4 linked regions of the Homo sapiens genome follow. The protein of the gene in region 2 interacts with the protein of the main gene of each other region in a biochemical or structural test. Each region holds a gene or a part of one and is shown on either strand. Other genes may lie near its edges.

The links. Proteins that work in one complex are often made in the same cells at the same time.
Region 1: the proteins of RAD51 (region 2) and SEM1 form a complex in vitro, tested with the Homo sapiens proteins (2 studies listed by BioGRID).
Region 3: the proteins of RAD51 (region 2) and EVL form a complex in vitro, tested with the Homo sapiens proteins (2 studies listed by BioGRID and IntAct).
Region 4: the proteins of RAD51 (region 2) and SUMO1 form a complex in vitro, tested with the Homo sapiens proteins (2 studies listed by BioGRID and IntAct).

What each region holds. Positions count from the first base shown.
Region 1 is NC_000007.14:96,687,910-96,690,554, reverse strand, and holds the end of SEM1 (26S proteasome complex subunit SEM1), read left to right. Parts: intron 1-1,588; coding exon 1,589-1,631; 3' UTR 1,632-1,793; downstream 1,794-2,645. UniProt on the Homo sapiens protein: Component of the 26S proteasome, a multiprotein complex involved in the ATP-dependent degradation of ubiquitinated proteins.
Region 2 is NC_000015.10:40,715,264-40,719,469, reverse strand, and holds part of RAD51 (DNA repair protein RAD51 homolog 1), read right to left. Parts: intron 666-4,206; coding exon 571-665; intron 1-570.
Region 3 is NC_000014.9:100,134,922-100,138,773, reverse strand, and holds part of EVL (ena/VASP-like protein), read right to left. Parts: exon of another isoform or gene 2,876-3,852; intron 2,870-2,875; coding exon 2,806-2,869; intron 1,197-2,805; coding exon 1,130-1,196; intron 1,035-1,129; coding exon 972-1,034; exon of another isoform or gene 1-971. UniProt on the Homo sapiens protein: Ena/VASP proteins are actin-associated proteins involved in a range of processes dependent on cytoskeleton remodeling and cell polarity such as axon guidance and lamellipodial and filopodial dynamics in migrating cells.
Region 4 is NC_000002.12:202,214,246-202,218,097, forward strand, and holds part of SUMO1 (small ubiquitin-related modifier 1 isoform a precursor), read right to left. Parts: intron 190-3,852; coding exon 112-189; intron 1-111. UniProt on the Homo sapiens protein: Ubiquitin-like protein that can be covalently attached to proteins as a monomer or a lysine-linked polymer.

The sequences.
Region 1 (2,645 bases), on a different chromosome or scaffold from region 2:
TCTTTGTTGATTTTTCCACTCAGCAGCCTCATGATTATTAGTGTTTTTGTTTTGTACTTGGTGGCCTCAATTTTTTTCTTTTGGTTTTTTAAATTCTAGCAAAGAATTTTTCATCTTTTCTAAGAATTTAGCTGATAGAAGAGCATTTCATCATCTTGTTTGTGATTGTAAACAATTTATACATGCAGTTAGTGACCAGCCACCTCCCATTAGGAAAGCCAATAGACACAAACCTGAAGGACAGATTTGGTATACTTGTTACTTAAATTGTAGGTTGAACTTTGGGGTTTTTTTGTTCATTGTTTTTGTTGCTGCTGTTAAAGTGAATATTCTACAGAGTAGAAAACTAAGGTTTAAGAAAGTTGTAAAATTACTTTTATTTTAAATAAATTATAAAATTTTAACATGAGATAAAATTCAAAGACAGTTACCACATTCCCTCAAGATTGGCAGCAAGAGTTTTTGTATGAAACATTTGAGTTTTCTGTGATCATCAGAATCTTTTAGCTTTTCCTTTCAGCCTTGACTCTTATTTTAATGTATACTACATTACATTTGTATAACTTTCTCTCATTTAGCTCTCAAAACAATGGAGATAAGTTGTTATAAATGAAGGGCAGATACTATAATCTCCAGTTTCCTGAGGGGCAGGGGAAGGGCCCAAAGGAAGCAAATTAGTTAGCAAAGGAAGGGCCAGAGTCAGAGTCTTGCACTGGAGTCTTGACTCCTAATCCAGGGTTTATACCACCACCCCATAGCAGAAGACAAGGATGATTCATTTGAACAATCTGTGGCCTTGATATAATTTATGGAAATTAGCTCACTATTTGTATTCTAAATAACTAAAAATTTTAGGAAAGCAAAGGAGTTTTGAGAAATGAATGCTAAATACTATACATTATTCCGGTCATGTGTTTGCATTGGAATAGTGTAGTGGTGTCTAAGCCAAATTTACTTGAGAACAAATGTCTATCTTATTGGATGTAATGATGTAAAGCATATTAATCATACTTTAAGTTTACTCAGTGTTTTATCATGGATTAGCCATCTACTAATTTTGTCATAAACTTTGAATTGTGGCAAATAAGGTTAGAGCAATACATATATGTCAATATGGAAAGCAATCTGTTTATTCTTTCTGCATATACAACAGTAATATAGTAATACCTGTTATGATCATTGTAAAATCCCTAAAGGTTTGATAGTGATGTGTACTTTGCCTGAGGTTAATGAGTCTCAAAACTTATGTTTAAATATTTATTAGGAACAGAACATTCATATAGCATTTGGAAAGTATTTGAAGGATAGCAGTAAGTCCCTCACATTTCTTCCACAAATAGACTTATAAGAAAATTAAGGAAGATAAAATACAAGTTAAATAATGGGAAAAACAAAATTTTATAGTATTATATTGACTCATATCCAATTTTCTTATGTTTTTTTTTCAGAGACAAAAGTAAAACTATTCAGTGGTATTGTAAATTGATGTCTCAGGCATAGCTCATTTATTTGTTTATTTATTGTATTGTTTCTAAAAGAATGTTTATTATAAAGAATACCTAGTGATGTTCTTTCTGTTTTATCTTAGAGCTGAACTAGAGAAACATGGTTATAAGATGGAGACTTCATAGCATCCAGAAGAAGTGTTGAAGTAACCTAAACTTGACCTGCTTAATACATTCTAGGGCAGAGAACCCAGGATGGGACACTAAAAAAATGTGTTTATTTCATTATCTGCTTGGATTTATTTGTGTTTTTGTAACACAAAAAATAAATGTTTTGATATAATCTTGGTTTGGTTCAGAAGTCTTAATCTTTTGCTTCTAATCAATTTTCTTGTCATGATTTTCCAAAACCTTATTATATATAGATAGTAAAATTTCATATTATGAAATTTTCTTTTTTTTTTTTAATGTTAACTGAGTGAGGCTCAGGTTAAATGATCTGGAGTAGATTTCACCTGATTCCCAATTCAGTACTTTTCTTAAACCACATCAATTAATTGTTACTTCTATTTTATAAGGAATTTCTTTTACATCACATTGAACCTTAATCTCTTCTGTATTTTGATAGCTTAGGCAACATTTGCTGACATTTATAAGGTGACCTTTCAAAACCTGTGTTTTAAAAATATTAATCATTTTAAATTGCTGTAATTTACTTAGTTCCTGAGCCATTAATAATATTATTAATGGTTGTTAGCGTATTATTGGTACTTAAAGTCCAAAGTAGTTTAATCACAGTAAGAATGGTGTCTTCTATTAAAATTGAGGAAGTGGGCTCAAGATACTTTATCAACAAGTGCATATTTTCAGGTACTACATAGCAGGCTCATTTAGTACAACTGAGTTTTCACAGAGTGATAGCTGTTGCCACATCACTTTTGTGAATGGGAGATTTAATTTGGTTTGTAAAGGATTCTTTGTGATGACTTAAATGTACGGGGTATTTTTTAGGAATATTTTCAAATGTAAATGTTGTTACTAAGAACTACAATCAATCTGTAGTGTTGAGTAATTTCAAATGTAAAATTTATGTAACAATGCAGTGCAGATACCAAAATAGGGGTTGGTGGCCTGAAATACAAGTTATACTTCAAAATGATTTTGAGCATAAATATGTTTCTGTTTTTAAGACAAGCATAA
Region 2 (4,206 bases):
ATCTTTCTCCATTCTTTTACTTTCTAAAGGGTTTCTCTGGAAGAAAACATATAGTTGGATTTTTTTTTTTTAAATCCAGTCTGACAGCAACTCTAAAGAATGCCTTTTTCTGGCCGGGTGCGGTGGCTCACACCTGTAATCCCAGCACTTTGGGAAGTCAAGGCAGGTGGATCACCTGAGGTCAGGAGTCTGAGACCAGCCTGGCCAATATGGTGAAACCCCATCTCTACTAAAAATACAAAAAATTAGCTGGGTGTGGTGGTGTGCGCCTGTAATCCCAGCTACTAGGAAGGCTGAGGTGGGAGAGTTGCTTGAACCCGGGAGGCAGAGGTTGCAGTGACCTGAGATCACGCCACCGCACTCTAGCCTGGGTGACAAGAGCGAGACTCCATCTGAAGAAAAAAAAAAAAAAGAATGCCTTTTTCTACTAAGGAAGTCATTCTTTTGAACCACACATACAACTTTGGGACGTGGGGTTATAGAAGAGACATTCTTCGGCCAAACTAACCCTGGCAATCACTACATTGATAAGTGTAGCCATAGTCTCTCTTATCTAAACCAGTAACCTACCTCTCAGCCACTGCCAGCAGCCGTTCTGGCCTAAAGGTACCCTCAGTGTCAATGTACATGGCCTTTCCTTCACCTCCACCCCGGTCAATGGGAAGCTATAGAGAACAAAAACAACAGTAGAAATGAACATTGTATTTCTGATACAGCTGACCAAGCTCCTCATGACATCTTTATAATTCCTCCAAGGCAAAGGGAAAAAAACATTTAAAAATGACAGTGGTAGGAAGGAGGCATTCCCTTCTGATATTAATAGAAATACAGCTAGAAAAATATGTAAAGCTGATTGTGTCTCAGTACATACAGCTAGTCCTGTCAGAACTGGACTGCTTAGAAATATAGCCCAAAGTAGGTAATAAAATTCTTTTCTTCTTTTTTTTTTTTTTCTTGCGATAGTCTCACTGTTGCCCAGGCTGGAGTGCAGTGGCGTTATCTCGGTTCACTGCAACCTCCACCTCCTGGGTTCAAGCAACTCTCCTGCCTCAGCCTCCTGAGTTGTTGAGATTAAAGGTCCATGCCACCACGCCCAGCTAATTTTTGTATTTTTAGTAGAAACAGGGTTTCACCAAGTTGGCTAGGCTGGTCTTGAACTCCTGACCTCAGGTGATCTGCCTGCCTTGGCCTCCCAAAGTGTTGGGATTATAGGCACGAGCCACTGCACCTGGCCTTTTTTTGTTTTGGAGACAGGGTCTCACTCCGCCGCCCAGGCTGGAGTGCAGTGGTGCAATCTTGGCTCACTGCAACCTCTGCCTTCCGGGCTCTGGAGATCCTCCCATCTCACCTCCCAAATAGCTGAGACCATAGGTGTGCACCACCACACCCGATTAAATTTTTTTATAGATAGGGTTTTGCCACATTGCCCAGGCTGGTCTTGAACTCCTGGACTCAAGTGATCTGCCCGCCTCGGCCTCTTAAAGTGCTGGGATTACAGGCGTGAGCCACCACACCTGGCCAGTAATAAAATTCTAGAACTGCATACCAACACAAGACTGATCAATTCAAAAGTACAGAAACTTGGAAGACCATTTACCTTAGCTTTAATCAATAATGGGCCATGATCCAAAGCCCAGTTAATTTTAGCATGTCTATATCAAACTTATACTTCACTTTATTGAGCAGTTCATTCTTTAGGGGTACTAAAGGGACTAGTCAATGCCCTCGGAGTGTCTATAGCAAATTTCGAGTGTGAGCAAGAAAGAAGAAAAAAACATATTTACTCCAATAGTATAAACAAGATGTTTAAAATGAACAATTGGAGAAAACAGAAAAATAAGTAGAAAGAATTTTAAAGAGAAAACAAAAAGGAAAGAAAAGAGAAGTAAATGAAATGCCATGAAAACTGTCTTATGAGCCACTCAAGGAAATCTCTGCTTTAGACTACCCATTCCATACCAGATACCTTTGAATTTTTCTACAAAGTTTAAGTGAATGATGCTAAAGGGTAATTTCTACTCTAGAAATCTACTTTGGAGTCATAATTCCCATTTAAATTATGAGGAAAATCCTTTAGAACATTTTATGTTAAAGGCCTAGGAGAACCAAATTTTTTCTTTCTTTTTTTTCTGAGACGGAGTTTCGCTCTTGTTGCCCAGGCTGGAGTGCAATGGCATGATCTTGCCTCACCACAACCTCTGCCTCCCGGGTTCAAGGGATTCTCCTCCCTCAGCCTCCCAAGTAGCTGGGATTTCAGGCATGCACCACCACGCCCGGCTAATTTTGCATTTTTTAGTAAAAATGGGGTTTCTCCACGTTGGTCAGGCTGGTCTTTAACTCCTGACCTAAGGTGATTCACCCACCTTGGCCTCCCAAAGTGCTGGGAGGCGTGAGCCACTGCACCCAGCCCAAATTTTCTTTCTTATCTTTGAGAATTTTTTTTTGAAATTACAAAACAACTATATGCTTATATTAAAAATCTAAACAATATAAAAGTAGAGGGCCGGAGGCCAGGCGCAGTGGCTAACGCCTGTAATCCCAGCACTTTGGGAGGCCGAAGCAGGTGGATCACCTGAGGTCAGGAGACCGAGACCATCCTGGCTAACATGGTAAAACCTTGTCTCTACTAAAAATACAAAAAATTAGCCGGGCGTGGTGGCGGCCACCTGTAGTCCCAACTACTTGGGAGGCTGAGGCAGGAGAATGGCGTGAACCTGGGAGGCAGAGCTTGCAGTGAGCCGAGATCGTGCCACTACACTCCAGCCTGGGTGACAGAGCGAGATTCCATCTCAAAAAAAAAAAAAAAAAAAAAGAAGTAGAGAGGCCAGGCATGGGGGCTCACACCTGTAATCCCAGCGAGTGGATCACCTGAGGTCAGGAGTTCGAGACCAGCCTGGCCAAAATGGTGAAACCCTGTCTCTACTAAAAATACAAAAATTAGTGGGGCGTGGTGGTGCACACCTGTAATCCCAGCTACTCGGGAGGCTGGGGCACAAGAATCACTTGAACCTGGGAGGCGGAGGGTGCAGTGAGCGATATCATGCCACTGCACTCCAGTTTGGGTGACAGAGTGAGACTTTGTCTAAAAAAAAAAAGAGGAAGTGGCGGAGAAAAAACTGAAAGCTCTTCACCACTCTCCATCTCCCAGAAATAATTTCCCAGATTATTTTCTATGCATTTTCATATACTTCTTTTATATAAGTGGTTCTTCCACTTACTATGTGACTGAGAATATTGTTTCCTTTTCTGTAAAATGTAAATAAAACCGACCTTATGGGATTGTTTTAAAAACTAAATAAAATAATTCATGTAAAGCGTTTAGCACGGTACACTCTGAAGACATGATTTTCCCAACCTTTAGGGCACTGACTTTAGTGTATACAGTTACGGAAGGCTTTGTTAATTTGGAAGGGAAAAATTACGTTACTATTTGGCAGATAAAATCTCTCACATCATGGGAATCCATGGAAGGAGCAAAGGACACATATACAACAAAAGAGGGTCATGCCTAAAGAAAGACTTGGAACCAGTGGCCAAGAGGACAGAGAGCAGAATCTGCCTCAGTTTCTTGGAGAGGAGGAAATATTAACACTCTGGGGACTAAGTCCCCAGGAAATAAGATGAACGAAGTTCTCCTTTCTCCTACCTCCAGGTAATATTAAGTGCTAACATGACAGGGGATTCTTTTCCAATTGAATAGACTTCCTTGGCAAAGGAAAGGCCACAGATGATTGGGAATAGGTAGGTAGACTGACAACAGGATAGTGGACAAGCTCCCAGGGTAAGATCATGGGGATGGATTGCATGCTCTGTTCTCCAGCTTATTTGGCCCTTTCTACCTTGCCCTCCCAGTGCCATCATAGCCATCTTCTGTTACTGGATTGGGATACCATCAGGTTAGCTCTTCTTAATAACTGCTTAGGAGCATAATTTAACACTTCTCATTTTATAGTGATGCAGTATGTTTCTAACTTTTACCATTTTAATTATGCTTTGGTATAAATTATTTGTACATTTATCTTTGCATATATGTGAAATGTTCTGTAAGACAAATTTTCTGTCAAAGGGTATGTGATTTTTTTGTTTTGTGGTTTTTTGGTTTTTGGTTTTTTTTTGAGACAGAATCTTACTCTGTTGCCCAGGCTGGAGTGCAGTGGCACGATCTCAGCTCACTGCAACCTCCACTTCCCAGGTTCAAGCAATTCT
Region 3 (3,852 bases), on a different chromosome or scaffold from region 2:
CCCTTCCACCATGTGGCCCTGCACCCTGTCCAGAGCACCCCTCAGGACCACAGTGGCCTTGTTCACACGGTGCTCTTTGCAGGCAGGGACTGTCCCCAGCACACGGCCTGGCTGACCACAAGCCTTGGACAAACCCCAGCTGACTGCTAAGACTTCCTCATCTCTGTCCACCTGCACTGCTCTGCTCTCACCACCTGTTCAGCTCTGCAAGGCCAGTTTCAATGCCTCCTGCTCTGTGATAAGGGTGGTTTCCCTTCAATTTGTGGTGGCGATGGAGACATTCTTGACGCAGGTTCTAGAGGCCTTCCAATTCAGGCCACATGTACCTCCAGATACTATGTGGCTGGCTGCCTCTGCCTTTTTGGGCAATCTCAGTTCCAAATATTCTATCATGTTGTCATGCCAGCTTTTGGCTTGGGAAATATGGTCAGTATGTCTGTGGGGAAACTGATTCTGTGTGCCGGCCGCAGAGGAAGGACTCTGGGCTGGAGGAAAGGGGTAGGGCTCAGCGCCAGTGCTAGGACTGGTTGAACTGTAGGGTGCAGCCCTGGCTAGTGACCACACCCCATGTCCAGCTGTTGCTCACAGCTGTCCCCACCACCACCCTGTGCAGCAGGGGTTAACAGACCTCACTTTGTGGGGGGAAAACAGAGGCTTGGAGAGGTCCCCTAACTTGCCCACTGTCACACGTAGTGAGTCCAGAGCTGGGACTCCATGTTGGCCCCCCCCTGCACTACCTCTGTGGACAGGTCACTGCCCTCCTTGCCCTTGGTCTCTCTCTCAGAGGGAAAAGACGGAGCAGCTGACTGACAGGACCCCGAGGTCCTGGGTCTGAAAGAACAGACCACCTTCGCAGAGCAAGTTGTTAAATGCCAGGACGTGAGACAGCGTGCAAGGGTGTTAGTCACGGGACGGGGGACAGAGGAGCCCCAAACCCTGGGGGACATGTGAGCAGGAGGGTTGTTCGGTACCTAGAGTGAGGCTGCGACTGAAGGGGGCTCTTAGCTTCGGGGCTCTTTGCCACAGACGGGGTTCTACGGCAATGGAATGAAACAGACATGTGAATCGGCGCCAGCGCCCGCCTCTGCCCCACCAGCCTCGCTGCTCAGGCCTTCCTGGGGCAGCTCACCTGGACAGAATCGAGGACACAGGCTTCTCCACCGAGTTGCTCCGCTCCCAGGGCTTCCGGCCAGCCTCTGTCAGTTCATTTCATGGATGAAGAACCTCACAGGTGAAGGGACTCAGTAGCCACCCCAATCCCCTAAACACCCCAACAGGAAGCCCTCACCCATGCCAAGGGTGCAGAGCCCCGTGGCAGGAAGGTCTGATTGAGTTAAGCCAAAACCTGGCACCTTGTTCTCAGTCCCCCATGGCCTAGGTCAGGTTGACCCTGACCTGTGATCTGGTTCTGAGCCCTTCACTGTGCCAGGTCTCTCTGGAATGTGAGCCTGCTGGTAAGGGACCCAGTGACTAGAGCCACAGGGCGAGCAAGCACGACCTCCCCGGACATCCCAGCACAGCCTTGCTCCCACGTGTGGTGTGGCGGCCAGGCCCCTCGGCCCGGCACCTGCTACTGAGGGGCTCCTTAGTCTGCCTCCCATGCTGCGCCTGGCTCTGTCCCATTCTGGCTGGCTTGTCTTTTTTAAGTGGTATTGGATTATATTTTGTTCTACTCCAAAAGATTTGTTGCATTAACTTGAATTCGTTGACTGTGCAGGACAAGCAGAGGCAGAAGACAAAATCTCTAGGGGGTAGTGGGGCAGCTGCCTGGCCCAGAGCTAAGCCTTGGCACCCTGCGGACCAACGGTGGGATTGAGGCAGTTTTCCTCAAAGCCACCTTCTGGGACAGGCGCTGGGCCTGCAGGCACTAGACCTGGGGCTACAGACATGTCCCAGGTGTGTGGCCTTGAGCAAACCACTTTGCACACAGATGGGAACCACGTAGCCCACTCACTGGGCTGTTGGAAGAAGCAAACAGGGCAGGGGTATTGATCACGTTCATCAGCCAGGAACCTATGCATCCTGGCAAATCAAGACACCAGGCAAAAATCTTAGGAGGAGAGGACATGGCGTGCAGTTTCACAGGGAGGCGACACCCAACCTGAGCATGCCCCAGAGACACACGCGAACAGCTGGCAAGAGCCTCCTCTGCCCAGCTAGGGCAGCCTGATGCCCCTGTCTCTCCTCGCTGTGCTCATGAGCACAGGCCTGGCACAGAGCAGGTGCTGCAAAGATGTTTGTCGAATGAACAACCAACCCTGGGGTCTTCCTCCCCTGCGAAGCCTCATCATACTCTCCTAACTACCTCCCATCTGCCACAGCTTAGACAGAGAGAAACCTGAGCCAGGGAAGGGGCTGCGTTTTGGGTGGAGCGAGATCTACTGCCATCTCTGTAATGTCGGTCATCAGCTGGCGTTTCACTGGGAGACATGAGTCCTGACACTGATACCTCTTAAGAGCACTGGCCCCAGCCTGCCTCAGGAGCCCTGGACACAAACTCCCACCCTGAATATGTGCCGTCAGGCAAGTGCCTTCTCTCGTGCGGGACTCAGGGTCCTGGTGGGAAGGTGACACGCAGGTCACCCTGGGGACCCATCACAGTGGCTCTGCTCTAGCACTTCCTGTGCTCCCACATGGGCTCCTGGGGGAGGCTCTGGGGGACCCATAAGAAATGGGCTTCCCTGTGGCCTGGCCCTCTGCTCAGGCATACTAAAGAGGCTGGATCAGAGGGTCCTGTCCGAAGGGTCCCCCCTCCCACTCTGAGACCTCATGCCTCACTGGGGTCAGCGGGGGGCGCCCTCTCACCTGAGGAGTTAGGTGGCTGGCTGGCTGCTCGGGTCCCCGGAGAGGGGGAGGTACTAGGATCTTCCTAAAATGGAGAAGAAGGGAGTCTGTTTAGGAAGGCCACCTGGGGCCAGGGCAGGACATCATTGGACACTTCATAAAACCTCAGTTTTCCAAATGTTCCCAATGAACACATATGACTTTTATAATTAGCAAAACATTAAATATTTAAAAGTGAAAACGCAAAATCTCAGTGGGGAGAGAATCGAGCCAGTGGACAAAGCTGGGGAAGGGGAAGGCTACAGGGAGCTACAGGCTCTCAGCAGGGTGATATAGAACTTCCTTCTGGCCCTCAACACCCGCAAGCCCTGAGCCCCCCTTGGGCCGGATGCCTCCCGTATGTCATCTCACTGACTTCTCATGAGCACCCCGTGGACTGGCCTGCTCCCCCTGTGCAGCACACACACCTGCCCGTGTAATAGGTCTGTGGCAGTGCTCGAACAGTGGACGTGTTCATCCAGCAGTGGGGACACCTAACACTCATCATGCATGGCATGTGCGTCAGGATGGTTTTTCAGCATCAGGAACATGCCACTGATTAAGTAATAAGAGTAATCCTTCCACTTGATGAAGCAGAATGCACAGCATTTGAGCTGTTGACAGGCGGCCACCCAACCTGATGTGTCATTCTGATCTGAAGCAAAGAACCTCTCCCTTGTCACCGTGGGCAGAGGTCTTTGCTTTGTCTCCTCTGCTCACTACATCCCCACACGAGAATCAGGAACGCCCTGCGTATCTGTGTGGTGAACGAGTAAGTCCCGGGAGGCTCTGGTCGAGAGGCAAAAGCAGGTGCCAGCCTGCAGGTGCTGGGATGAGGTTCTCAGGCCTCCTCATTTTAAAGACAGCTGAATAACAGATTATGTCAATCAACACACACATGTGGGGGCCACGATGAAAGCGATACAGGGTGACATCAGAGTCACTAAAAAATTATCATCTTTTCTTGTATGTTATTTTTTTAAAACCCTCCCTGCTTAAAAGGGAAGTTATGCTTTGACTCTAGGCTGG
Region 4 (3,852 bases), on a different chromosome or scaffold from region 2:
TTGAGTTGCTAATGGTGAAAATAATAAAACAGGATTTTTCTTCTGACAATCTTCTATAAAAAAAAAAAAATTAACGACAAAGCATTGTACTTAATACCAAAATGGACGAACCTGTCTTTGACAGTATGATTCTTTGAGTTTCTTGAGATGTGTTGTCATTTTCACTTTGAAGTGAATCTCACTGCTATCCTAAGGAGATAAAAAAGAAAAAAATTATCCCTCTTTGTATAAATCATTTGCTTTACTTGAACCAAACTATTTAATTACACATATAGTGCAAATAGAAACATAAACCTTGTAACCTGTATTTTTCCACCACAATATTCTTTTTAGCATTCTTAACAGGTTTTCTTAAAACAGTGTAATCATCCTCAAAGTTACTGTATACCCATTACAAAAGAAACCGAGTAAAACAAAGTTAATCAGTCTTGAGTGTTAAAATTATCAGTATAAGTAAAAGTCTAAGTAAATGCATTCCTTCATTTGCCATTCTATTGTCAAAATAAAAGATGAACTATCGCATCTTTTATTTATCCCAATAGCAACTCAAAACAAAAAGTCTGTCCCCCCAAGTGAAGTGTCACTGAAGGTGGTCGCCTAGGAGAAAAGCAGTTAATTAGATAATAATTAATTGTATAAAATTCAATTTTATACAATAAGCGACTGAGAAATTTATTCCTGCCATAAAAAATCACCACATGGGGCTGAGCGCAGTGGCTCATGCCTGTAATCCCAGCAATTTGGGAGACCAAGGCAGGCGGATCACAAGGTCAGGAGTTCAAGACCAGCCTGGCCAGTATAGTGAAACCCCGTCTCTACTAAAAATACAAAAATTAGCCAGGCATGGTGGCACACACCTGTAGTCCCAGCTACTCAGGAGGCTGAGGCAGAAGAATTGCTTGAACCCAGGAGGTGTAGGTTGCAGTGAGCCAAGAACACGCCACTGCACTCCAGCCTGGGAAACAGAACAGTACTCCATCTCAAAAAAAAAAAAAAAAAAAAAATCACCACATGGAATCTGGTTTCTCTCACATGAGTAAAATGAGTAAGAACCTGAGTTAGTCAAACTGATTTGTGAGACCAAAAATTATTTTATTCTGCTCAGATTGTGAAACAAACTATCAGCCAGCCAATCCTCAGAAAAAATACTGTTACTTGCATAATGTAAACTTTCAAAGCCAAACTTCATGACTACATATCACATTCACAAATGTGTATTTGCAGAAGCTGCACATTTACAGTATTTTTCTTGTGACTGTAACTATGAAGAAATAAAATTATCTTCACATAGATCATTTCATAAACAGATAAAATTCTACAGCAAACCTCATGCTATACATTAAAATCAATTCCAGGCTGGGCATGGTGGCTCATGCCTATAATCCCAACACTTTGGGAGGCCAAAGCAGGAGGATCATTTGAGTTCAGGAGTTCGAGACCAGCCTGACCAACATGGTGAACGCCATTTCTACTAAAAATACAAAAAAATTAGCCAGGCGTGGTGGCGCATGCCTGTAATCCCAGCTACTCGGGAGGGTGAGGCAGGAGAATCGCTTGAACCCAGGACGCGGAGGCTGCAGTGAACCTAGATCTCGCCACTGTACTCCAGCCTGGGCAACAGAGTGAGACGCCATCTCAAAAAAAAAAAAAAAAAATCACTTGCAGATGAATTAAAGAGCTAACATTAAAATTTTTTTGGCCAGGTGCAGTGGCTCACTCCTGTAATCCCAACACTTTGGGAGGTCAAGCCGGGCAGATCACGAGGTCAGGAGTTCAAGACCAGCCTGGCCAACATGATGAAACCCTATCTCTACTAAAAATATAAAAAATTAGCCGGGTGTGGTGACAGTTGCATGTAATCCCAACTACTCGGGAGGCTGAGGCAGGAGAAGTGCTTGAACCTGGGAGGCGGATGTTGCAGTGAGCCGGAAGTACCACTGCACTCCAGCCTGCATGACAGGACAAGGCTCCACATCAAAAAAAAAAAAAAAAAAATTCTCAATATTTTCCCCTCAAGGGAGAATTTTTTTCCCCTAATTTTGGCCTTGGGATGCCCTATTGCAAAGCATGATTTTAACCTAGAAACCATAAAAAAAAGAGGTGGATAAATTTGACTTAATAAAAACATAAAACGTCTGTATAGTAAAAGATGCCATAAACAAAAGTTAAGACATACTGGAGGAAATATTCATAACATGTAACAGACAAGGAAAATGAAGACAATATTTTTAAAAATCCCACAAATTAATAATTCTTAAAAAGACATTCCATGGCATATGGACATATAGATAGATCAATGGCATAAAATTGAGAGCCAAGAAAAAACCCTTATATCTATAGTCAATTTTTTGACAAGGATACCAGAACAATTCAGTGAGAAAAGGACAGTCTTTTCAACTAATGGTCTGGGACAAACACCCATAAAAAATTATTCAAAATGATGAAAGATTTAAATGTAAGAGCTAAAACTATAAATAAAACCATAAAACTTTTTTTTTTTTTTTTTTGAGACAGGGTCTCACTCTGTCACCCAGACTGGAGTACAGTCACGTGATCACAGCTTACTGCAGCCTTGACCTCCCAGGCTCAAGTGATTCTCCCTGCTCAGCCTCCTGAGTAGCTGGGACTACAGGCATGTGCCACCACGCCCTACTAATTTTTTATATTTTTTGTAGAGATGGGGTTTCGCCATGTTGCCCAGGCTGGTCTCCAGCTCCTGAGCTCAAGCAATCTGCCCACCTTGGCCTCCCAAAATGCTGAGATTACAGGTGTGAGCCATTGTGCCCAGCCTTAAAACTCTTAAACCACAAGCGTAAACCTTTGTGACCCTGGATTAGGTAATGGTTTCTTAGATAAATTACAAGCAACAAAAGAAAAAACAGATGAACTTAATTTACCAAAATTAAAAACTTTACGCTGCAAAGAATAAAACCAAGAAAGTGAAAAGACAACTCAAAGATAGGAGAAAATCCATGCAAATCATATATATGATAAAGGTCTAATACCCAGAATAAAAGACATATTACCACTCAACAATAAAAAGACAACTAACCCAATTTAAAAATGGGCAAAAGATCTAAAGAACTTCATTTTTCCAAAGAAGATGTACTAATGGCCAATAAGTACATAAAAAAATGCTTGGCATCATTAGCCATCAGGAAAGAGCAAGTTGAAACCACAGTGAGATACCACTTCACACCCACTAGGATTATAACCAAAAATACGGATAATTACAAGTGTTGACCAGAATATGGAAAAACTGAAACCCTCATATGTTGCTGCTAGGAATGTAAGATGGTAGGGCCACTGCTGAAAACAGTTTGGCAGTTCCTCAAAAAGTAAAACATATAGTTGCATACTAGACCCAGCAATTCCACTCCTAGGTATATATCCAAGGGAGCTGAAAACATATGTCCATACAAAAACACACATGAATGTTCACAGCAACATTATTAATAGTAGCCAAAATATGGGGACAAACTAAATATCAACTGATAAATGGAAAACAAAATATATTCTACCCATATAATGGAACAGAATTCAGCCATTAAAAGGAATATAGTACTGATACATGCTACAGCATGAATGAACCTTGAAAACATGCTAAAACAAAGAAGCCAGGCCAGGCATAGTGGCTCACACCTATAATCCCAGAACTTTAGGCCAAAGAGGGAGAATCACTTAAGCCCAAGAGTTCAAGACCAGCCTGAGCAACATAGCGAGAACCCTGGAGAGGGAGACGGGGATGGGGAGGGGGGGAGGGGAGGGAGGGGAAGAGGAACAGGGAAGCAAGGCAGAAAAGAAGAAACAAACCAGAATAAAAAGTCACATATCAAAGCTAGGCATGGTGGC